Regions from separate parts of the Homo sapiens genome. Here region 2 is linked to region 1. Evidence: fine-mapped expression QTL. Tissue or cell type: whole blood. Region 1 holds a variant in brackets; the other region holds the start of a gene. All regions are shown on one strand. Distances are from middle to middle.

What was found. PIP is the estimated chance that this variant, and not a neighbour inherited with it, causes the effect.
Region 2: RSU1 starts here. The variant in region 1 is fine-mapped to the expression of RSU1 in whole blood (TOPMed, PIP 0.97).

The regions. Positions count from the first base shown.
Region 1 is chr10:16,707,889-16,716,082 of GRCh38, forward strand. All of the region lies in intron 7 of RSU1 (Ras suppressor protein 1), which reads right to left. LOC124902384 (a long non-coding RNA gene) reads right to left here. Exons shown (of 2, transcript XR_007062072.1): 2 at 8,109-8,194. Among named protein-coding and RNA genes, the nearest start is that of RSU1, 110 kb to the right of the region's middle. The variant C/A (reference allele first, on the strand shown) is at 4,605.
Region 2 is chr10:16,814,165-16,822,340 of GRCh38, forward strand. It overlaps RSU1 (Ras suppressor protein 1), which reads right to left and starts at 3,260. Exons shown (of 9, transcript NM_012425.4): 1 at 3,151-3,260; 2 at 2,809-2,920. The coding sequence starts at 2,917. LOC105376435 (a long non-coding RNA gene) reads left to right here and starts at 3,535. Exons shown (of 3, transcript XR_930708.3): 1 at 3,535-3,592; 2 at 4,517-4,578; 3 at 6,664-7,093. RefSeq lists enhancers at 2,739-2,898, 3,569-3,678, 3,709-3,798, 3,829-3,878.

The sequences.
Region 1 (8,194 bases):
TTTTTTGGTAAGAGGTAGAGGTCTAGACTCATTCTTTTGCATGTTGATATCCAATTTTCCCAGCACCATTTACTAAAGAGATTTGTCTTTTCCTTAATGTGTGTTCTTGCCACCATTATGAAAAATTAGTTGGCTATAGGTATGTAAATTTATTTGTCGGCTCTCTATTCTGTTCCACTGGTTTATGCGTCTGTTTTTAAAGCCAGTAACATGTTTAGGTTCCCATAACTTTGTAGTAGCAGTGACCCTTGAACAACTTTTGACTTCCCCCAAAAAACTATTAATAGCCTACTATTGATCAGAAACCTTACGGATAACATAGTCAATTAACATATTTTGTCTGTTACATACATTATATACTATATTCTTACAATAAAGCTAGAGAAAATGTCATTAAGAAAAACATAAGGAAGAGTAAATATATTTATTATTTATTAAGTGGATGTGGAGTATTATAAAGGTCTTCATCCTCATTGTCTTCCTGGTGAGTAGGCTTCCTGTTGAGGGATTTGTCTTGCTGTTTCAGGGGTGGCAGAAGCAGAAGAAAATCTACATAAAAGTGAGCCTGCACAGTTTAAATCTAAGTTCTTTAGGAGTCAACTGTACATTTTGAACTTGGTTGGTGTGATACCTGCAGGTTTTTCTTTTTGCTCAGGGTTGCTTTGGCTATTTGGGTCCTTTTGTGGTTCCATATGAATTTTAGGATTTTTTTTTCTATCTGTGTAAAGAATGTCATTAGTATTTTGATAGGAATTGCATCAAATCTGTAGATTATTTTAGGTAATATGGCCATCTTAACTATATTAATTCTTCCAAACCATGAAGACAAAGTAGCTTGCCATTTATTTGTGTCCTCTTCAATTTCTTTTGTTAAAGTTTTAGAGTTTCAATATAGAGAGCTTTCAATTTGGTTTTGTTTCTATTATCTTTTTTTTTTTAAGCTATCGTAAATGGAGCTGTTTTCTTGATTTCTTTTTCAGATAGTTAATGAACCAATATTAATAATGGTTAATATATAGAAAGACTACTGATTCTTGTATGCTGATTTTGTATCCCATAACTACTGAATTCATTTATTAGTTCTACCAGTTCTTTAGTAGAGTCCTTTGGTTTTTTTTTTTTAATTATACTTTAAGTTTTAGGGTACATGTGCACAATGTGCAGGTTACATATGTATACATGTGCCATGCTGGTGTGTTACACCCATTAACTCGTCATTTAGCATTAGATGTATCTCCTAATGCTATCCCTCCCCCCTTCCCCCACCCCACAACAGGCCCCAGAGTGTGATGTTCCCCTTCCCGTGTCCATGTGTTCTCATTGTTCAATTCCCATCTATGAGTGAGAACATGAGGTGTTTGGTTTTTTGTCCTTGCGATAGTTTACTGAGAATGATGATTTCCAATTTCATCCATGTACCTACAAAGGACATGAACTCATCATTTTTTATGGCTGCATACTATTCCATGGTGTATATGTGCCACATTTTCTTAATCCAGTCTATCATTGTTGGACATTTCGGTTGGTTCCAAGTCTTTGCTATTGTGAATAGTGCCGCAATAAACATACGTGTGCATGTGTCTTTATAGCAGCATGATTTATAGTCCTTTGGGTATATACCCAGCAATGGGATGGCTGGGTCAAATGGTATTTCTAGTTCTAGATCCCTGAGGAATCCCCACACTGACTTCCACAATAGTTGAACTAGTTTACAGTCCCACCAACAGTATAAAAGTGTTCCTATTTTTCCACATCCTCTCCAGCACCTGTTGTTTCCTGACTTTTTAACGATTGCCATTCTAACTGGTGTGAGATGGTATCTCATTGTGGTTTTGATTTGCATTTCTCTGATGGCCAGTGATGATGAGCATTTTTTCATGTGTCTTTTGGCTGCATAAATGTCTTCTTTTGAGAAGTGTCTGTTCATATCCTTTGCCCACTTTTTGATGGGGTTGTTTTTTTCTTGTAAATTTGTTTGAGTTCATTGTAGATTCTGGATATTAGCCCTTTGTCAGATGAGAAGGTTGCCAAAATTTTCTCCCATTCGGTTTTCTATATGTAAGATCATGTCTGCAAACAGGACAATCTGACTTCCTCTTTTCCAATTTGGATGCCTTTTATATCTTTCTCTTCCCTAATGGCTTAGGCTAGGACTTCCAGTACTATGTTGAACAGAAGTAGCAGAAGTTGGCATCCTTGTCTTGTTCCATATATTAAAAGAAAGCTTTTCCTCATTCAGTATGATGTCAGCTGTGGGTTTTTCATACATGACATTTACTGTGTTAAGGTACATACCTTCCATAACTAATTTGTTGAGTTTTTATGAAAGAATGTTGAAGGATGTCAAATGCTTTTTCTGCATCTACTGAAATGATCATATTGTTTTTGTCTCTTTTTGTTAATGTGATGTATTACACTTATTGACTTGCATACGTTAAACTACCCTTGCAACACTGGTATGAGTAATACTTGATCACAGTGAATGATCTTTTTAATGTGCTGCTGGATTCAGTTTGTTAATATCTTATTAAGAATTTCTGCATCTATGTTCACATTACAGATACTTACCTGTAGTTTTGCTGTTGTTGTTGTATCGTTGTCTGGTTTCAGGATCAGGGTAATGCTGGCCTCATAAAATTTTACAAATACTCCCCACTTATCAATTTTCTGGAATAGTTTGAGGAGAACTGTTATTAGTTCTTCTTCAAATGTTTTGTAGAATTCAGTAGTGAAGCCATCAGGTCCTAAGCTTTTCTTTGATGAAACATTTTTTTTAAATTTTTTTATTTTTTATTATACTTTAAGTTCTGGGATATATGTGCAGAAAGTGCAGGTTTGTTACATAGGTATACATGTGTCATGGTGGTTTGCTGAACCCATCAACCCATCATCTACATTAGGAATTTCTCCAATGCTATCCCTCCTCTTACCCCCTACCCGCCGACAGGTCCCAGTGTGTAATGCTCCCCTCCGTGTGTCCATGTGTTCTCATTGTTCAACTCCCACTTATCAGTGAGAACATGCAATGTTTGATTTTCTGTTCCTGTGTTAGTTTGCTGAAAATGATGGTTTCCAGCTTCATCCATGTTCCTGCAAAGGACATAAAGTCTTTCTTTTTTATGGCTGCACAGTATTCCACATGGTGTATATGTGCCACATTTTCTCTATCCAGGAAAGACTTTTTATAACTAATTGTCTCACTAGTTATTAGTCTGTTCAGATCTTTAATTTCTTTATAATTGAATCTCAGTAGTTTGTATATGTCCAAGAACTTATCTATTTCTTCCATATTATCAAATTTGTTGGCATATAGCAGCTCATAATATTCTCTATAATTTTCTGTATTTCTGTAGTATCAGTTGTAACATCTCCTTTTCCATCTCTGATTTTACTTGAGTCTTGTTTTTTTTAGTCTAGCTTAAAGTTTGTTGATTTTGCTTATCTTTTCAAAAAAACCAACTCTTCGTTTTCTTGATCTTTTGAATGTTAATTTGTCTTTATTTCTTCTCTGAGCCTTATTCTACCTTTCCTTCTATCAATTTTGGGTTCAGTTTGTTCTTGTTTTTCTAGTTCCTTGTGGTACGTCATTAGGTTGTTCATTAAAAATCTCTCTTCTTTTCTAATGTAGCTGTGTATTGCTATAAAATTCCCTGTTAGAACTGCTCTCTCGCTGTGTCTCACAGGTTTTGGTAAGATGTGTTTGCATTCTTGTTTGTCTCAAAGCAATTTTTCATTTCTCTGTTAATTTAATTGACCCACTGGTTGTTGAGGGCCATGTTGTTTAATTTCCACGTATTTCAAAGTATCCAAAGTTGCTCATGTTGTTGTTTTCTAGTTTCATACCACTGTGGTTAGAAAAGATACTTGATAGGATCTCTATCTCAAATCTGTTAAGATTTGTTTTGTGGCCTAGCATGTGCTCTATCCTGGAGAATGTTTCATGTGTAATTGAGAAGAATTTGTATTCTGCAGCTGTTAAAATGTTCTGTAAATATCTGCTAGGTGCATTAGGTCTTTGATGTAGTTTTAGTCTGATATTTCTTTGCCAAACTTCCCTTTTATAATTGTATTGCAGTTGATCTGTACCTTTATGTGCAATCATGTTTGTTTTGTACATCTGTATGTTTCAGGGTTGAGTGCATATGTATTTGTTACAATATTCTCTTATTGAATTTATCCTTTAATCATGACATAATGACCTTTTTTCTTTTTCCAGTTTTTGACTTAAAATCTGTCTTATCTGATACAATTATAGCTACTCCTGCTCACTTTTGGTTTCTGTTTGTATGGAATATGTTTTTCCATTCCTTCACTTTCAGTTTATGTTTGTCTTTAATGATGATGTGAGCCTCTTGTAGCCAGCAGATAGTTGGGTCTTATTTTTAAAACCTGTTCGACCACTCTGTGTTTTTAAATTTGAGACTTTAATCCATTTATATTCAAGGTCATATCAATAAAAATTTATTCCTGCCATATTGTTGTTTTCTGCTTGTTTTGTAGATCCTTTTCCCCTTTCTTTTACTCATGTTATTTTCCTTCGCGGTTTGGTGGTTTTCTGTGCTGCGAAGTTTTGTTTTCTTTCTCTTTACTGTTTATTATTCTGT[C/A]GTAATTTCTTTCTTTGTGGTTACCATGGGGCTAACATAAGAGTCTTGTAGTTACAATAGACTACATCAACCTGATAGCAATTTAAATCTGGTTGCATGAAAATATTCTAGACTTAACCCCATACACAATTAATATTTTTGTTGCCTTAATCTACTTATTTATTATATATTTGTAGCCACTAAGTGTGGTTGTTGTTGTTTTTGACCTTTTTGACTTCTAAGTCTTCATACTAGAGGATTGAGAGATTTACATAGGACCATTAAATCACTAGAGTATTTTATGAATTTACCTCTACTAGTGAGTTTTACACCTTCACATGTTTTCATGATAATTATTGTCCTTTCTTTTCCAGTGGTAGCACTCCCTTAAGCATTCCTTATAAGGCCAACCTACTGGTCACAAATTCTCTCAGCCTTTGCTTGTCTGAAAAGGTCTTATTTCTCCTTCATTTCTGAAGGATAACTTTGTTGGATATAATATTCTTGGCTGACAGTTCCTCCTCCCCACAAGCCCCCCTTCTTTCAGCACTTTGAATATATCATCCCATTCTCTTCTAACCTGCAAGGTTTCTGCTGAGAAATCTACTAGTAGTCTAATGGACATTCCCTTGTGTGTGATGTGACACTGTTTTCTTGTGGCTTTTAAAATTCTGTCTTTAACTTTTGAGAGTATGATTATAATGTGCCTCAGAGAGGACTGAATCTAACTGGGGACCTCTGAACTTGCTGAATTCCTATGTCCGTATTTCTGCCAAGACTAGGGAAGTTTTCATCTATTATTTCATTACATAGGTTTTCTGTGTCTTTCTCCAACTCTTCTCCCTACGAAGTTCCTATAATGCACACATTTGTTCATTTAATGGTATCGCATGAGTCCCACAGGCTTTCTTCAATTAAAATTCTTATTTTTTTTTCCCTCTGACTGGGATAATTCAAGAGGCCTGTCTTCAAGTTCAGAAATTACTCTGCCTGATCTAGTCTGTTGTTGAAGCTTTCACTTGCACTTTTTATTTCATTCATAATTCCTCAGCTCCAAGATTTCTGTTTGGTTCTTTATGACACTTATCTTTGTTGCATTTCTCATTCGGATGATGAATTGTTTTCCTGATCTCACTGAATTATTTGCTGTATTCTCTTGTATCTCCATGAGTTTCCTTAAGATTATCTTATTTTCAGGCATTTCATAAATGTCCTTTTCTTTGGGGTCTTTTACTAAAGACTTATTGTATTCCTTTGCAGGTATCACATTTCCTTGCTTTTTCACATTGCTTGTGTCCCTATGCTGATATCTGAACATCTAGTGGAATAGTGACCCTTTCCAGGTTTATGAAGTAACTTTCATTAGGAGATAATTCTTCCTGTAGATAGGTCCCAAGGTGTCATTTGAGTGTGGTGAGTTAGCTTTAGTTCTGGGTGGACTCAGTAGCATGGTCTACATGTAGTTTTTTCAGCTGCAATCTTCATCAGCAATGTCTGCAATTGCCTCAATGGCCTATGCTGTAGGTATTTGTGGTGGTCGTAGTGTGTGGTTTTGCTGGGAGTAGGGGTGTTGGGCTGGCTGTTGGGCTGAATATGTATGGGTGTGGAGGGCGAAAAGGCTCTCCAACAGGCTTTTCAGGGAGGTGGGGCCACCACTAGTCTGGCTGTTGGGCTGAGCTTAGGTGCATATGGGTGTGGCTAGCTGAGCAGCTACGTGGCTGTCTCTTCAAGAGGATGGATGAAGAGTCTACTGGTCTGATGCTGTGCCAGCTGCACATAGGTGCAGCTGTGTCAGGTGGCCCTGTAGGAGTCTGTCTAGAGGAGCAGGTCCACCACTGGCCCAGCTCTTGGGCTGGATGCCAGTGTGAAATGGGGTTGGGCAGCCTTGCAGTTATTTGGGAGGGAGGGCTGCTACTGGACCAGCTGTCAGGCTAGACATAGAATAGCAGCATTCAGCTGCTCTTTGGGTGTCTGTATGCGGGAACGAGGCTGCCACAGGACCAACAGTTGGACCAGCTATGGATGCACCGCGCTTGGTGGGACAGGTGGCTATGGTGCAGGTACGTGCAGGAGAGGTAATTGGCTGACTGTTCAGTGACTTCAGCACCGTACAGATCTGCCTGTTCCCTGGGGGGTGGGGGGATGTGGTGTGTCACTTGGGTTTGAACACTGGGGTCTCAGTCATTCCATGTGACCTATGCTTTGGGTAGCTATGGTCATAGTGCTGCAGGTACCTGTGTGAATGTGGTATAAGGACAGCTAGGCCTCCAGGATGAAAAGAGTCAATTGCTACTGGTGCGCAGGGCAGGATGCACTCTAGCAGTGGGAAAGGTTCAAGATGGGACAGAGTTGAAGCTGCTTAGGTTGCGGGTCCTCAATGTGGACACTGAGGCATTGCATCTGTGTGAGCTCCCGGCTACTCTCCAAACTGGATTGGGGGCCTGTGAAGTTTAGGGGACTCCTATATCAAAGACTGCTAGCATTTCTGGTGGCAATGGGGACTGCTGGGAATCACCAGCATACATTTCCCCATAAACAGCACCCCATGACTGCCAAGTCTCCACTGGGGGAGACTGTGGCAGAGGCAGGATGCCTCGCTCACCTGTCCATGGTGCTGTCCTGGCCTTCCATGCACCACAGGAAGTTTGCTGCTCCCCTAGTGCGGTCCAGCATACTTCCTCGTCACTCTAGTTGAAATATAGTTGTTTACTTGTTGTTTAGATCCCCTTTTGGGGGAGGGATGAGCACTAGGCAACTCTCATTGGCCATATTGCTCTGGGTTGCCTTTTCATTGTGTTGATGTTGTCTTTTGATGCACAAAATTCTTAAATTTTCATGAAGTCCAATTTGCCTATTTTTTCTTTTGTTGTCTGTGCCTTTGGTGTCATAGCCAAGAAGTCATCTTAAAGTCCAACGTCTTGAAGATTTTATCCTACAATTTCCCCTAAAATTTTTATAGTTGTAGTTCTTACATTTAGGTTTTTTATTCATTTTGAGTTAATTCTTCTATATGTTATTAGGCAAGGGTCCAACTTCATTCTTTTGCATATGCCTATGTAGTTTTTCACTTCATCATTTCTTAACAAGACTGTCTTTTCCCCATTGAGTGGTTTGGGCACACTTGTCAAAAAATCACTTGACCATTTAGGCAAGGATTTATTTCTGGGGTCTCTATTCTATTCCATTGGTCAATATATCTGCCTTTAGGCCAGTACCACACTGTTTTGACTACTGGAACTGTAGCAAGTTTGAAATCAGGAATTGTTAAATCCTTCAGTTTTGTTCTTTCTCAAGGTTGTTTTGACTACTTGAGGTCTGTTGCAATTCCATATGAACTTTAGGGTGGGATTTTCTATTTCTGCAAAAAACATCAGCGAGATTTTCATAGCGAGTGCATTAAATCTACAGATTGCTTTAGATAGTGTGATATACTTCACTAATAGGTCAGAACAAGTATTTTTAGCAGGTTGCATTTAAATATAGGCAAGCATTTCCCTATTCAAGAGTCAAAACAAAGTAGAAAAATTTTTCTTAATCAGATAATTTATTTACACAGTCTTTAAAAAGAACAAAATCTCATGTAAGTATATGTTGAACAAATCTTCTTAAAA
Region 2 (8,176 bases), 110 kb after region 1:
TGTGGTAGCTCACATGTGTAATGCCAGCACTTTAGGAGGCCAAGATGGGGGCACTCCTTGAGCCCAGGAGTTTGAGGCCAGCCTGGGCAGCATAGCAAGACCCCATCTCTACAAAGAAATAAAAAATAAAACCATTAGCCAGGCGTGGTGGCGTGTACCTATAGTCCCAGCTACTCGGGAGGCTGAGGTGGGAGGATTGCTTGAGCCTGGGAGGGTGAGGCCCCAGGGAGCTGTGACTGCACCACTGCATTCCAGCCTGGGTGACAGAGCGAGACCCTGTTTTCAGGAAAAAAAAAAAAAAAAAGAAAAAAAAATTCTTACACTTATAATTAATGTAGCCATGTGAAGTATTTTAATACTTGTATATATTAAGCACTGTGTCAGTGTGTGTGCACTGCTGAGAAGTGAGCCCTGGTGGAGGCTTCGAAGAGCATCCTGGAACCCCCTAGGCTCCGAGAAGTCCTGAGGTCAGGGAGTTTGCAGAGAGCAGCCTTGGCTCAATGCTACAGAAGCCAGAGGAGATGGAATCTGCAAATCTCCAAATTCACTTCCACCCAACTTCCCAAAAAGTACTATTATCCGTTGTTAGCTACTTCTTTAGGAAAATTTAAGAATGATCTCGCTTTTCACCACCCAATGTTATACCGGAAATATATTTCAGGAAGCAAGTGGCTTTTCTTCCTTAATAAAAGCCAAGGCTTCAAAGAGATAACGGAGCTGAACCGAAATAGCTAAGCCATTCTCCCCATTTATAAATATTACATAAAGTCTCCTCTTCAAAAGCCGAAGGGTACAAAGCTCCTCTGCTGAAAGCAGCCTCTCTTCTACCTGGTGAGAATGAGTGCTGTAGGGAGGAAGGCCATGGGGCCAAGGTTCCCGCTATGCATCATCTTCCCTATCCCCTTCTCTTTCTCCTCTGTATCAACAGTGCCCCCAATAATGACCATGGTCATGGCAGAGCCGGGCAGGCGCAGCAAGGGGCAAACTCAGATATCCAATTCCAGAGGCATCTGCTCAGTTGCTGACAGCAAGGACCCTTACGGAATGCAAGAGACCAACACACACCAAGCCTGAGAGGCTAACTAGTACACAACCTAAGTTTAATGGCACGTATTTTCATAAAGCCTACGAAACGCAAATCTACGTTTCCTCCCTTTTCCTTCTGCCAAGACATATCAATAGCATCAACTCCAACCTCTGTCCCAGGCAGGTTTTCGAACCGTGAAAACCGTGAATTCACAGTAAACCTGACTCTGCAGTTCTCTCCATGCCTAAATGGCTATCCATCGCCTTTCAGGGTCTCCTGAACATCTCCCTTCTTCTCTCTTGTCACATCCTGGAGTTGATATCCCAAACTCACAGGCCTAATCCATCATTCTTTCATTTTCTTCATTCCTCAACTATTTTTGAGCATCTACTGTGCTCCAGGCACTATTATTAAAAAAATGCAAGCATGAATATTGCACAGCTTTTGTCTTCCCAATGTCCCAGCAGAGAAGAGAGACTTCTAGATTAAAAAAGAAAAAAATCAGTACAATCCTATGTGAGAGGAGTCACAAAGCAATACACACGACCACCTTCACAGAGGAGGGAAGGGATATGTTAGCCTGGTGCAGACGGATAAGGTTTTACACAGGTGGTGATGTCTAAGCTGACTCTTAGAAGTAAAAGGATTTCAGGTGCAAACGACTGAGAAAGAGGGAAAACAGAATTTGTAAAGGCACCAAGATCTGAACGAGTAGGCTCTGGTCCAGGAAGGGCAACAGGTTCAGAATGGCTGGAATGCCAGCTGCATGGAAGGGTAAGGTTGTGTTCAGATTCAGAAAGGCCTTGTACATCACGCCAAGAAACCTGGAGCATTACCGTCGATAATGGACAACCTGGAGAAGTGCGGAGAGGGTTTAAACCAAAGCCACGTCAGCCTGAAGAACTGCTTTAGCTCACTTATCACAGGTTTTTCAAATATTAGAATTAGTAGCCAACATCTAAAAATTAGCAAATTTCACATAAAAATATAGAATCTTGGTTCCTTTAAGAAAATAATCTGGCACATTGGGCCAACATTCCTATGGTGACATGTGTCTGAGTAGCAGGTGCAGCAGCTGGCCCCTTCAAGTGGGACACCTATCACCTAGTTCATAACCGCCCCTGACCGCCCTCACTTGGAGGCATGTGAATCTGCAATCCCTGGTTTTAAGGGAGAGGGTAACACCATAGACAGGGGTTACAGGAAAATGACACTGAAAGTGACCCAGTGATTAAACTGGGCAGTGAAACTGAAGGCAAGAGGGCAAGTTAGGAGGATTTCACCACAGCATGAGGAGGTGACAAAAGCCTGAACCAAGTTCGGAGAATAAATACTCAGAAGAATGTAAAGATTCAAGAAATGCTTAAAACGCTCCAGGCACAAGAATGCTTATTAACCATGGAACTTTTCTGTGTCATTTGTTCATGGACAAAGACTGTATTAGGAGACAGGAAGAAGGACTCAAAATTAATTTTCAATTTATAATTAAAGTGACTATTAAGCAAACTGTGGAAAATCCACCTCAATGCCATACAGCAGAGACAACCGATGAGGCACAGCTGTCTGTGTGATTCTCATCGTGGACTCTCAGGATCGTTTTCCAGGTGGAACAGAACAAATCCTACTGCAAACCCTCTGCGCGAAGCCCCTGACAAGTGAGGTTTACAAGCAGGGGCTGGGGTCTAAACCAGTACAATCGCTCACAGCAGGACCAGCAGTGAATTGGCAAACTTAGAAAGCCTTCCAGCTCATCCACGGGAGAGTCCTGCCCGAGAACTCACAGAGGCCGTTGACATCCAGCATGTTGGAGATGCCCCGGTCACTCATGTCCACCTCGGGCTGGTTCTTCTCCCGGCTCTCCTCCACCAACTTCTTCAGAGACTTGGACATGGTCTGCACCGAACAACAACAAAGCACGTGGGCGATGACAGCAAGCGCAGAGGCGGAAAGGCAAGAGGCCTTCGCTGCCACTCTGAGGCTTCCCCAGGGTTGGAGCGGGTGGGCGTCCGAGGGCGTCCCAGGGGCTGGTCCGGGTGCGGGGAGGGGATGGAGTGGGAAGGGTTCAGCCCCGCTGCGGCCACGCAGCGAGAAGCAACCCCAAGTGCAACACCGCACACACTCACCACGGAAGGTAGCCCCTAAGACGATGGGCGTGCAACCACAAGCTTCGGCAGAACGCACTCCAGCTGCCCTCACTCCCTGCAACACCGGCACTGAACAGCGAACACGCCCTGTCTCGGCGCCCCGCGCAGGCGCACACAGCGCCGCTGCCAGCTCCACGCCCGACCCTACCCATATTAGGAGAACAGCTCTCCAGACGTGTCTCCAGGGCCAGGCTCCGCCCTTAAAAGTCTGTGGAAGAGGCTGGCTAATCACGTTCGTTATTCGGCTTCGAGACCCCGCCCCACGCTGAGGATAGTTTATCCCGGTGGCGTCCACCCCACGGTTTGGGACGCTGATTGGGCCGAAGTTGGCGCGTGCGCAGTAGACTTGGCGCAAGCTCAGTTGATGGGTCGAAGCCCAGAGGGCTGTGGGCGGAAGTGGGGAAGTTTGTGGCGTGACTGTGTAAGGGAGGGTGGTGGCTCAGGGTGGGTGTTGCGAAAGCTGGAAGTAAATTGCTTCCGAATGTTTCGCTTGTGTAATAGCCGCTCCACTCGCCAGAAGTTGCTACCCTGAGCCCGTCTCCACAATGTGCCTCTGAGGGACCTTGTGGGGCACGCAGTTTCCCGCCCTATTAAGAGCTTCTCCAGGCGGGGATTCCGGCGCGGTCTGCGTTTCCCCAGCGCCCTGCTGGAAATCTTTTTTGACAGGTTTCTAAGGCTGGCTTTTAGCCTTTTTACTTGTAGCTAGAACCTACAAGTAAAACCCTACTATTTTAAAAGTCATTTGAAAACACCACTAAAGCGATGTGTCTTTCCCAACTAGGACTTTTACATTTGTGAAACATGACGTTCTGGCTTCCAGGAATCTCTTGCTTTCTCTTCCAAAAGCAACCAAATTTTAAATTCTAGAGAAACTGTTGCCCTCTGCCTCCCTATTTCCTGACCCAGTCTCAGTCACCCAGCAACATCCTGTGCTTCTCTCACCAAAAACCCTGTCCTGAGAGACTATTTTATACTATGGAATAAAAATTGGCACCAGGCACTTTTCTTCTACTGGTCACCTAAATTGATGATAAGACGGATGCCACACATATGCATTTATATATTGTAGATTGTAGCAGGGATCAAAGCCTTAAGGAGATGTGGTAAAATAATGTAATTATATCTCCGAACCAATTGGATAAAAAAAGGATCTGCACTCTTAAATTCGAAAGCAGGTATTTCTTGCTTAAAAAACATTCCAGATGAAAGAGTTATTCCTCCATTAGTCTTCTTTGATCTGGAACCGTCCTTGGCTTTTATGTTTATTGAACTAGACATTATTTAAGAATACAGACCAGGTATTGTGTGGAATATCCTTCAAAGTAAGTTTGATGTTCCCTTTCAGGTTATGAATTTTTGGAGAAACACCACTAAAGCGATGTGTCTTTTCCAGTGCATGATATCAAGGTACAGATGGCATCGGTTTCTCCCAGTATAGGTGATGTTCACTTAAATAAGGTAGTGTCTGCCAGGTTTCTTCACCATAAAGTTACTATTTTTTTCTTTATGATTAAAAATAATGCTGGGGGGAGGTGCTACTTGATTACACCCCATTCCTCATCTAATTTTTACCCACAAGTTTTAGCATCCACTGATGATTTTCTAACTTCATAATTTCATCAATACGTATTAGTAGGTAATCTCCTAATACATTTATTTCTTGAATCATTAACTCTTTTAAAGCAAAAGTCCTGTTTTGAAGCAATCAGAATTTTTCTTATTCTATCAATTTCTAATAGTGAATCTTGCCTAGGTAGGCTGAAGACATACAGTACCTGTGTTAGTCGGCTAGGGCTGTCGTAACAATATACCACAGCCTGGATGGCTTAAACAACAGAAATTTCTCACAATCCTGGAAGTTCTAGATCAAGGTGCCAGCAGATTTGATTTATCCTGTGGCCTCTCCCCTGCCTCGTGGACGACTGTCTTCTCTTGGTGTCCCTCCAGGGCATTTTCTCTATGCAGTCACACCCTTGGTGTCTCTTCTTCTAAGGACACCAGTCCTATTGGACTGCCGGCCTATAATAACACCCTGCATTTGTTTCATGAATGTACTCTCTTCTCAGGTATCACCGAGGATAATAGTTTTTAAACCTCTCTTCTGTTCACTCAATTATGTTTCTTCAAGGGTCCATTCTTACGTGTATTTATCTAGTCTTTTCCCTAGAAAAGAAAGATTCTTCCCCTCTCTGGTGATTGATTCTTGGTTGTTCTTTTGAGTTCAAGTGTGAAGATCTGAACTGGTTTTTCTAGATAGCTGGAGTGGTCTCTTGTTTGTTTGTATTGTTTTCCTCCTAGATCCCTAGACTGATAGTCGAATTTCTTCAGAGGCAAGAACCCAGTATTATGCCTGCAGGTCATCACCCGGCTACCTTTGCAGGTGGAGGGAAATGGTGGATTGTGAGTGCCAGTTAGGGCAACTCCCTGACTTTGGTTTTAGCCCCTCACACTGCACCAGCCAGCCCCACATCCAGGTTACACCTGGAACAGAGAGTCCCAGCCCTCCTGCATGTCTCTCTTGAAGTTATTTTGAGCTGCATGCCTCCATTCACTTCTGTTTCATAGGAATTTGTTTTCACTCCTGTTTGAGATAGGAAAAACCAAACTGTTTTTGCTACTCTCCACTGGCTCAACACTTCTGACACCAGAGAATCCCCCACACATGAAACAGTTCTCCAGCAGACACCAGCTCGGTGTCTTACAGTTTAACTTAATTCTGACACTGTCTACCTCAACTTATAGTCAAATCCCACAAGTTAAGGGTTCATTTCCACAAGACTTTAGGTTGACTGTCACCTACACTTCTGACTGACCAGCTATAAATCAGGGTTCCCACACCCCCTTCTCAGGTTTGATTAATTTGCTAGGATGATGGTTAGCCTGTCCAGGGTCCTGATTGCTAGCAGTGAAACTTCATGGTGACACAATTTGGAATCAGGAAACTTATCCCTTGGCCACTAGATCTGGGAAGTTGGCTCAATGTATGTTTCACCAGATAAGAATATTAAGGTTTTTGCCTCAGGACTGGCTCAGGAAATCAAGCAAGATGGAGCTGGGAAGTGTGCTTTGTGAAGCTGGGAGACATCAGCTGATAGTCTTGTATGGCTGTCTTGTTCTCTGCTTTATCCTCAGTGCGCTGAGTACGTATCACATAGCTGATGCTCAATAAACATTTGGAAACAAGTGAATTAAATGTAAAGCAGAACCAGAGGATATACGGTGGGTCTTACGAATGAGAGTACAGTTGACTCTTTTCTCCTTCTTCCAGCTGAATTACTCAAAAACTGAATTACTCAATAACTACTTCCCTTGGCTATACACGAAAATGTCATGCTCCCAAGCCTGACCATCCCTAACCCACTAAAAAATCACTGCTTATTTCCTAGATGCCCAGCCTGGAAGATTTTGTAAAGCTTCATTTTGTCTCTTTTTTTCTGTATTTTTAATTTTAAAATTACATAATAATATTGACTATGCTTTCCTCAATTTCAGGTACACACTTCCCAGATATTCCAATATGCCTCCTAGAAAAGCATGCCCTTCTGAGTGGAAATGATACCGTTACTCTAATGATGCAGTCCATGCTCTAAGCATCATTTTTTTGACAGTGACATCATGTTAATCTTTCTTTCAGAAAAGTACTATGTCATTTCATGTTATTGTTAAACTTTCCCTGTATTCTGTACTTTTGCAATTCATTTTTTGATAAAAGAGGAAGATCTTATATCTGTCACATTTCGTCTGTTACAATTGGCCCATTGTTGTAGCTTATCAAGACCTTTTGGATTTGATGGTGTTACTTATCGCATTCACTGTCCTTTCCAATGTAATTGTCACCCATAAAGTTGATATGTCTATCCATAATACAAAAAGGGAGCAGGAATTGTTGTTGTTGTTGTTTGTTTTTTTGAGATGGAGTCTCATTCTGTAACCCACACTGGAGTGAAGTGGCGCGATGTTGGCTCACTGAAACCTCCGCCTCCTAGGTTCAAGTGATTGTCCAGCCTCAGCCTCCTGAGTAGCTGAATTTTCAAGGTTAGAGTATTTTATTTCTGTGGCTCCATACTCTGTCCAGAAATAATTATCTGCCATTTGAGTATTAGAGTAAGATGAAGTTACATTCCTCAGCTTCTCTCATTCACATGGTCTTTTGTTAATAACCCTTGATTTTGCATAATTAACATAAAGCAAATCTCCTTTGTAAAGGCTTCCGCTTTTCTAGAGGCACTGAAAAACTTTATAAAAGCATTGAATTTTCTTATGAAAAGGAAGCTAATAACTACCTCACTTAGTTACATGTCTGGCAGCATTGGAGATAAGGATGTGCTACTGAACTTTCTACTTCTTGTTAAGTGGCAAACCATATTGTTTATTTATAACTTAACATATTGTGTTAAGGAATAGGCAATGGTGGTGCTTATGGAAACTTTGTACTCCTGAGCGTAAATACATAATAGAGTTTGGATATTTGTCCCTGCTCAAATCTCATGTTGAGTTATAAAAGCCAGTGTTGGAGATCGGCCTGGTGGGAGGTGTTTAGATCGTGGGGGTAGATCCCTCATGAATGGCTTGGGCCATACCCTTGGTGATAAGTGAGCTCTTGCTCTGAGTTCACATGAGAGCTGGCCACTTAAAAGTGTGTGGCACCTGTCCCATACTCTCGCTGTCTTGCTCCTGCTTTCACCGTGTGACATGCCTGTTTCCCCTTCGCCTTCCTCCATGATTATAAGCTTCCTGAGGCTGCCCCAGAAGCCAAGCAGATGTCAGCACCATGTTTCCTATAAAGCCTGCAGAGCTGTGAGCAGATTAAACCTCTTTTCTTTATAAGTTACCCAGTCTCGGGTATTTCTTTATAGCAATGCAAGAATGATCTATTACAGAAAATTGGTACCAGGAGTGGGGTTTTGTTATAAAGATACCTGAAAATGTGGAACTGACTTTGGAACAAGATAATGGGTAGAGGTTGGAAGAGTTTGGAAGGCTCAGAAGACATAAAGATGAGGGA